Linked DNA regions of Homo sapiens. The protein of the gene in region 2 interacts with the protein of the main gene of each other region in a biochemical or structural test. Each region holds a gene or a part of one and is shown on either strand. Other genes may lie near its edges.

The links.
Region 1: the proteins of RANBP2 (region 2) and NR5A2 form a complex in vitro, tested with the Homo sapiens proteins (one study listed by BioGRID).

What each region holds. Positions count from the first base shown.
Region 1 is NC_000001.11:200,041,167-200,044,981, reverse strand, and holds part of NR5A2 (nuclear receptor subfamily 5 group A member 2), read right to left. Parts: exon of another isoform or gene 3,308-3,815; coding exon of another isoform or gene 3,136-3,307; intron 2,392-3,135; exon of another isoform or gene 1,984-2,391; intron 1,209-1,983; coding exon 1,090-1,208; intron 1-1,089. UniProt on the Homo sapiens protein: Orphan nuclear receptor that binds DNA as a monomer to the 5'-TCAAGGCCA-3' sequence and controls expression of target genes: regulates key biological processes, such as early embryonic development, cholesterol and bile acid synthesis pathways, as well as liver and pancreas morphogenesis.
Region 2 is NC_000002.12:108,722,322-108,726,136, reverse strand, and holds part of RANBP2 (E3 SUMO-protein ligase RanBP2), read right to left. Parts: intron 1-3,815. UniProt on the Homo sapiens protein: E3 SUMO-protein ligase which facilitates SUMO1 and SUMO2 conjugation by UBE2I. Involved in transport factor (Ran-GTP, karyopherin)-mediated protein import via the F-G repeat-containing domain which acts as a docking site for substrates.

The DNA.
Region 1 (3,815 bases), on a different chromosome or scaffold from region 2:
TAACAAATGTCAACACTGGATAGTTAAAAGCAAAAGGATTTAAAGAGTAAAATGGGAAAATGCTCATAATTCCACTGGAATACATTCAAGTATGGGAACTGTTCTTAAAAAGGCAAAACTAATGGAAGGAAAAAGCATGTATCACAGATAGCTGAATTGTAGCACACAGGGTATGAGCTTTCCTTATATTTTATATAAAAGAATTAATCAAAAATAAAATGTGTAGCTTTATAATATGAGATTTACCAGGATAGTATTCATATTTAACCCACTTGCCACAAAGAGAAACATTCTTACTTTGTTATAGAGAATGGAGGGATTTTCCTGGTGGTGGTTTAAGTAATTGTACTGAGTTTTCCACTTAAAAACAAAAACAAACAAACAAAAAAAACTTTGAAAAATAGTGAATATTGAATTTACTGGGAATGTATTAAAAAGTCCTGAGATAAATTCTTAAAGTATAATTTATATTTTTGGTAACAATATAGCATATTTTACATATTAAAATCCATGCACTTAAATAGGTCATATATTTATAAAAATTATTATATTAAAAACTAAAATCTGATTTCTTGGTCTTTATGATATAAATTTCAAAAAATCCTTAAAATTATTTTGGAATAAATCAAGATGAAATCACACAGTTGGGAATTTAGGCTTTTATGTCTGTGGATAAAGAATGTTTAGACTTATAGCACAGAAATACTCTGAAGTTAAAATGTATTTGGGAAATAGTTTGTCATATTCCCTTTCAAGAACAACGATGCTTTAAATATATATAAGTCAAGCAAAATCAATATTTAGGACTGTTAGAAATGGAAGTCTTTCTACAGCTATATCACTTTACTACAATAAAGTATTTTAGAACCATGAGACTGGCAAAGTTTTCTAAACAGCATAAATTTCTTTGCCTTTTGAACTAAATCAGACACACACTTCTAAGAATCATCTCCCTAAGACTCTCTCTTTCTCCCTCATTTTTAGTTGAGTCTTTAAAAAAGGAGCCTAAATTTAGCTTAAAAGAAGTAATCCACTGGTTTATTTTGGTGTTGGACATTATATTTTTCAGGTAGCAATGTGTGAGCAAACCTTGCAGCTTTCACAGGTGAGGAGCCCATAATGGTACCCAGACACTTTATCTCCACACACGGGACAAAGCTCTTCCAGATCTTCATCATAGGAGTAATTCACCATTTTAAATTGAGACACTGAAACAAAAAGAGAAATGTATACACATATTCAATTAATTTACATGTAGGTGTTAATCCTGCAACAAAAAGCATTTTGGTGATTGCTGGGCAAATATCACATGGTAAAATATAAAATAAAAACAATTTTTAGCAAGGTCTTACTGAACTATTTTTACAAGTAAAACATCTTTTGTCATCAATAAGCATGGACCTCATATAATTCCATGTGCCACAAACAATTCCAACTTCTTTTGTTAACATTTTAAACTGACCGCTTTTAAACACAAGTCTCATAACTCCACAAAGCAACAAATAGAGACATGAATTGCATAAGGTGACAGTTTAGAATTTCTTTTAAATCCCTATGAAGTTAAATTCCAAAATGTCACCTTCGCCTAAGGTAGAGAAACAAGCGCAGGCTTTATTCCCTCCCTCTTGAAGTGGTTTGCTGCAAGTGCACCTTGCTTACAGGGACAGCAGCACCAATTTGCAAACTCTGTCCGACAGAGAAACTGAAGCCCCAGAAACCCGCTTCTCAGCAGCAGCCCACTTTAACTAAACAGCCTGAGGCTCCCAACTTTCAGATCTGTTAGATAATCGAAACATTCAGTTCCGTATTGACAGTACTTTTCTATTCTGGATACTTTCATCTCCTTACGTTTGAAAATCTGTGAAAATAAAAAGAAGGAAAAAGAAAATAGAGGACGCCCGTACGGGGAAAAATACCAGAAGAGTAAAAGACACACAGAAGGGTTTTGGTTTCAAAGTATTGAAGCCCTGTAATGAACCTCACATGTTTCCGATCATCATAGCAAAATATAAACACCTCGAGATCGCCCTATTAAAGTTAAACAGAAATCAGGCCGCCACGACGCGCGGCGCGGCTCACTGCCGGGATCGGGTAACCGCCTTGCTCCGGACGCAGACCCACGAAGGCGTCTTCGCAGCTAAAAAGATGACAAACTATGCACAGGAAGGGCAGTGACCAGGAGACCCCAGGAAGTGCCTGATCCGGTATTTCCCGGAGACTCCACATCCACACAGGTCAAGTATGGGAGCGCGGGGCGCGGGTGGGCGGGCACCCGCAGGTCTGCGCAGCCGGGACCCTGCCCGCACTCCCCCGGGCACTCTTCGGCGAAACCCGTGGGCGCACCAGGCTCTCGCCTAGGCTCTACCTCCTGCTACCCAACGGCGCACAAACACGCAGCCGAGTTTGTTTTAAGTTAATCAGTGGCGTTTGCAGGGGGTGGGGCAGGTGGGGGATGGAAAGCCACGGCCGGGCAGAAGTTTCCTCTGATTTGTTTACCAAAAAGGAAAGAGAAATAGCCCCCACCCCATCGCCAAAGTCCTCCGCCACAGTATCGCCGCAGTGATGACTTGTTCTTTTGAAAATAAAGTTATTTTTTTTCTCTTTGGTTCCCGAGCTCTTCGGTCGGAAAGGGCCGTCAGGGGGGTCACTTGCAGCACTTTGCGGCTAAGGACTGCGCGCAGACCCGCGGAGTTGACGCGTCTCTTCCCGGGCCACAGAGCCCTAGGATGGCTCACAGGGGAGTGAGTTAGCCAGAGTTTGGGAACATTCCGAGAAAAGAGGCTCCAGAGAAGGCAGGAGCCTGCCTTCGTGAAATATTAATAAAGGGATGCTAGGCGAGGTCCTCCCAGCGGTGCCAGCCTGAATCCCAGCCCCAAGAGACCCCCACTAGGGTTTTAGGAACCTGGGGGTTTGGGAAGGGCCGAGGGTTCAGAAATTCCTTTATAGCCCCTAGACGTTGATAGCTCTCCTAACAATCGCGATGACAGTCTTGAGGCATGTTTTAGGAACAAGGCGAAAAGCGCACTTTCCCAACTGTGATCTTTTCTACCTCCCCTTCCCCCAACAAAGTAAACTCTAACTTTACACCAAAGGGGCACAGATAGGCAACTGCTTTCAGAGGGACTCCGTGCCTACCTCGGGGACCCGACATCGAAGAAAGACCGAGGCATGAGGTAGAGACTCTCTTGAAAAAACCCAAAGACAGAGGCTGAGTAGGGAGACGCTGCTGTGTGAGGCCTGGGCACCTTTCAGAGTTTCCCAGATGCTCTGGTGCAGCCGAAGTAGGCGTTTGGGGAGGCGAACTCATCGGGGCAAAGAAGCGCCCACACTCTTCCCCAGTTTCGGTCTAGGGAAAGAAGAACGGACGGCGGTGCCTTGGAAAGCTAGGGCCTCAGAGAGGCGCACAAAGTTCCCTCAAAGTTGGGCGCGCTGCTCTGTCCCGGGACCATGTAGTGGATCGTCTTTCTGGGCTCCTACGGAGGCGTCCCAGGTGGGAACCAGAGCAAGCAGGAGAATGGGGTCCCCATCCCCCAGGGGCTCCTCCCGACAGGCAGGCCTCTAGTCTCCGACGAAGCCTTGCCCCGGCGCTTCCCATGCTGATTTCGAACCATGGGCTGAGTGAGTGGCGACTTCTGAGCCCAGGCACCAAAGAAAAACTACTTCTCTGGTTTGGGGGCACTAGGTAGTGTGTCCAGAAGACCCCTCTCGAACTTTCCAAAGAAAACGTTACCAATAACATTTCTCTCTCCGCTCTCAAAATAAGTCTTTGGCTTCTCGCGCCAGAACAAGAAGCAGAAACTTTCCTTTTGGAGCCA
Region 2 (3,815 bases):
AAACTCATGAAATGTTTATTTATATAATCTTCCATTCAATATTTTTGGACCACGGGTGACACAGCTAAGTAAAACCACGTAAGGCAATACTGTGGATAAGAAGGGACTACTGTACCAGCAACGAACAATCAGAAAAGGAAATTAAGAAAGCAATTCCATTTACAATCGCATCTAAAAGAAAAAAATGCCTGGGAATAAATGTAAACAAGGAGGTGAGAGACTTGTATGCTTAAATTACAAAACGTTGCTCAATGCCAGGCTAACACCTGCAATCCCAGCACTGGCGACAGAGCAAGCCTCCGTCTCAAAAAAAAAAAGAACTACAGCAATCTTAACAAAAATAATACACAGCAGTCAGGACAGCACGTAAAGGAACAAGGCTTGTTCCCCCCTTCCTTTTTTTTTTTGAGATGGAGTCTTGCTCTGTCGCCAGGCTGCAGTGCAGTGGCTCGATCTCAGCTCACTGCAACCTCTGCCTCCCGGGTACAAGCTGGGACTACAGGCGCACGCCACCATGCCCAGCTAATTTTTGTATTTTTAGTAGAGATGGGGTTTCACCATGTTGGCCAAGATGGTCTCGATCTCTTGACCTTGTGATCTGACTTCCTCCACCTCCCAAAGTGCTGGGATTACAGGCGTCAGCCATTGAGCCCAGCCAGTTCCCCCTTTTCAAAATGAAGAAATAGATTCAAGGTACAATGCCAAAACATAATAGAAAAATAATTCCATTACCTTCTTTGCTTCCAACTATGTTATTAAAGTAGACAATCTTAAGATAATTAAACAACTTTACAAATTATTCTTCTATATGATCTTTTGCCTCTAACCTGCTCACTTTACAAGGGAACTGAAGCTCAAGCAGGTAAATGCCTTGTTTAAAGATACACAGCTAGGAAGGAGCACAGCCCATGTTATGTAAACAGGACAATATCTGATGCAAGCAGTACTTCTTTACATGACAGCAGATGTCACTATAAGCAAATACCTGAATTCACTTAAGCTGCCAAATATCAAGAACTGATGCAGGGCTGAAAACAGGAACAGTAAGACCCTAAGAGATGCCACATCATCTCTATCTTGCACAGTAAGATAGAGATGTAATTGTAATTGTCCAAAACTTAATATTTGTGGCCTACTTTTTCACTATGCAGTTCTAAATTTTTTTTTTAATTCAGATGGAGTCTCACTCTGTCGCCCATCTTGCACAGTCAAATGAATCTCCCTCCCCCTAAAATCCTCCAAAAACCCATCTGATCAGCTGTTCTCAACAAACCCATCTGATCAGCTCCAAATCTGTGGAGTCCCAACAAGGGTGAAGGCCGCGATTATACAGGACAATGAGGAAAAGTCTAGATACTGAACCATGAGTTCCCCAATCTTCTTCCCCTGGAACATAAGGGTAAGGAAATCTCTCAAAAGGCAGAACAAACAAAAGAGGAGAATAAGAGAAAAATTAGAGAAACTCCAGCTTTCAGGTAAACGTCATTAAAAAAAGGGTAAGAAATGGTCAAAGAAATAATACAAGAAATGCTACAGAACTGAAAGAAATGAGTTTCCCAATTGAAAGGACACTTCCAGAAAACCTTTAAGTTACCAAGAACAAGAATCTCATCGGACTCCTAACAACAGAACTTCTAGAAAATGGAGCAATGCTTTCAAAATTGCGAAAAAAAAATTATTTCAAACTCAGAATTCGATAACCAAATGATCAACTAAATTAAGTAAAGACATTTTAAAGACATACCATTAGTTTCAAGACCAGCCTGACCAACATGGTGAAATCCCATCTCTACTAAAAATAGAAAAAATTAGCCGGGCATGGTGGCACACACCTGTAATCCCACTACTCAGGAGGCTGAGGCAGGAGAATCGCTTGAACCCGGGAGGCGGAAGTTGCAGTGAGCTGAGACCATGCCACTGCACTCCAGCCTGGGCAACAGAGCAAGACTCTGTCCCAAAACAAAAACAAACAAACAAAAAAACCTCTCATCTACTTTTCCTCAAAGCAAGTGAGACTATGCTACACCAAAACAAAGAAAGTAAATGAAGAGGACATGAGATACAAGAAACAAAGGGTCTAACTCAGAAAAAAGATGAAAGGAATTCTCAAACTGATGATAAAGGGAAGTCCCAAGAGCACAGCTGTGTAGCAAAGAGGAAGAAAAACCAATCCTGGTTGGAGAAGTCAGTTAGTAAGGGTATTCCAGGTAGACAGACAATCAATCAATCAATCAATCAATCAATGTTTTAAGCTGCAATTGATGGGATTATGTGACCAGTTTGACCACATTTGAGGGTGTAAATTGCTGAGTTTAAGTAAGCAAGTAGTAACACAACATACAAGCAAACCAAAAAATAAAGCAATTATTCAGTCCAGGAAAAACAAAACCGCACAACAAGGGCAATTCAAATGCAAAAATATTTACCTTATATTTATATAAATGTTAAATATTCATTTAAACAAAAACTGCAATAACAGTACTGAAAGAATGAGGGGCAAACCAAAGTGTCTGAGGACAGTTTTGGAGGAGCATAATAACCAGTACAGAATGTCTAAAATGGGGCCCGGCGCGGTGGCTCACGCCTGTAACCCCGGCACTTTGGGAGGCTGAGGCGGGCGGATCATGAGGTCAGGAGATCGAGACTATCCTGGCTAACACGGTGAAACCCCGTCTCTACTAAAAATACTAAAAAATTAGCCGGGTGTGGTGGCGGGTGCCTGTAGTCCCAGCTACAGGCTGGGGCAGGAGAATGGTGTGAACCCGGGAGGCAGAGTTTGCAGTGAGCCGAGATCGCGCCACTGCACTCCAGCCTGGACGATAGAGCGAGTCTCCGTCTCAAAAAAAAAAAAAAGAAAAGAAAATGTCTAAAATGGGAGAAAGGAAATTAAAAATAACAAAAGTATATATGTGTGTTACTCAGAAGTATGAAGTATAGCTGTAAAGGGCAGAAAAAACAACTAACAGCTGTCAAAGGTGCCTGCCTGTAGTCCTAAGTACTCAGGAAACAGAGGTAGGTGGATCATTTACGCCCAAAAATTTGATGGCAGCCTGGGCAACACAGCAAGACCCTATTCTAAAAAACAAATAAATAAAAATAAGAGCTGTCAAGTAGACTTTGAGAAGTAGGAATCAGCTGCAGAATAAGAAATCAACTTGACAGAACATAGAAAAACTAAACAGAAGCCATCTGGAAAAAGAAAAACTAGAGAAAGAATTATATTTTTTTTTCTTTTTTTCTTTTTTGGAGACAGAGTCTCGCTCTGTCACACAGGCTGGAGTGCAGTGGTGCAATCTCTGCTCACCACAACCTCTGCCTCCAGGGTTCAAGCAATTCTCCTGTCTCAGCCTACCGAGTAGGTGGGACTACAGGCGCTGCCACCACGCCCGGCTCATTTTTGTATTTTTAATAGAGACGGATTTTCACCATATTGGTCAGGCTGGTCTCTCGGCCTCCCAAAGTGCTCAGATTACAGACGAAGAATATTTTTAAGGGCAAAAGCACATGTGAGGGAGTAGAAAAATGGCAAAACAAGAGAAGACTAACAAATGAAAGCACAATGAAAGACTAGAAAGATATGATATACAGACGCATCATCACACTCCAAAACTCCGACATTCTAGAAAGCATGGGCAGTTCACAGATGGCCAGCCTCTGCCAAACTGGGGGAGAATACTAACCTCTTCATATTCTTCACAGCCACTGCCTCTTCTCCCTCCATTCTTTACCTTCTATCCAAAGCACCCTGTTTTGTCATTTCACTCAAACCTAACTTTACAGAATAGCTTCACATGTTCCAAAGTTACTCACTAGTT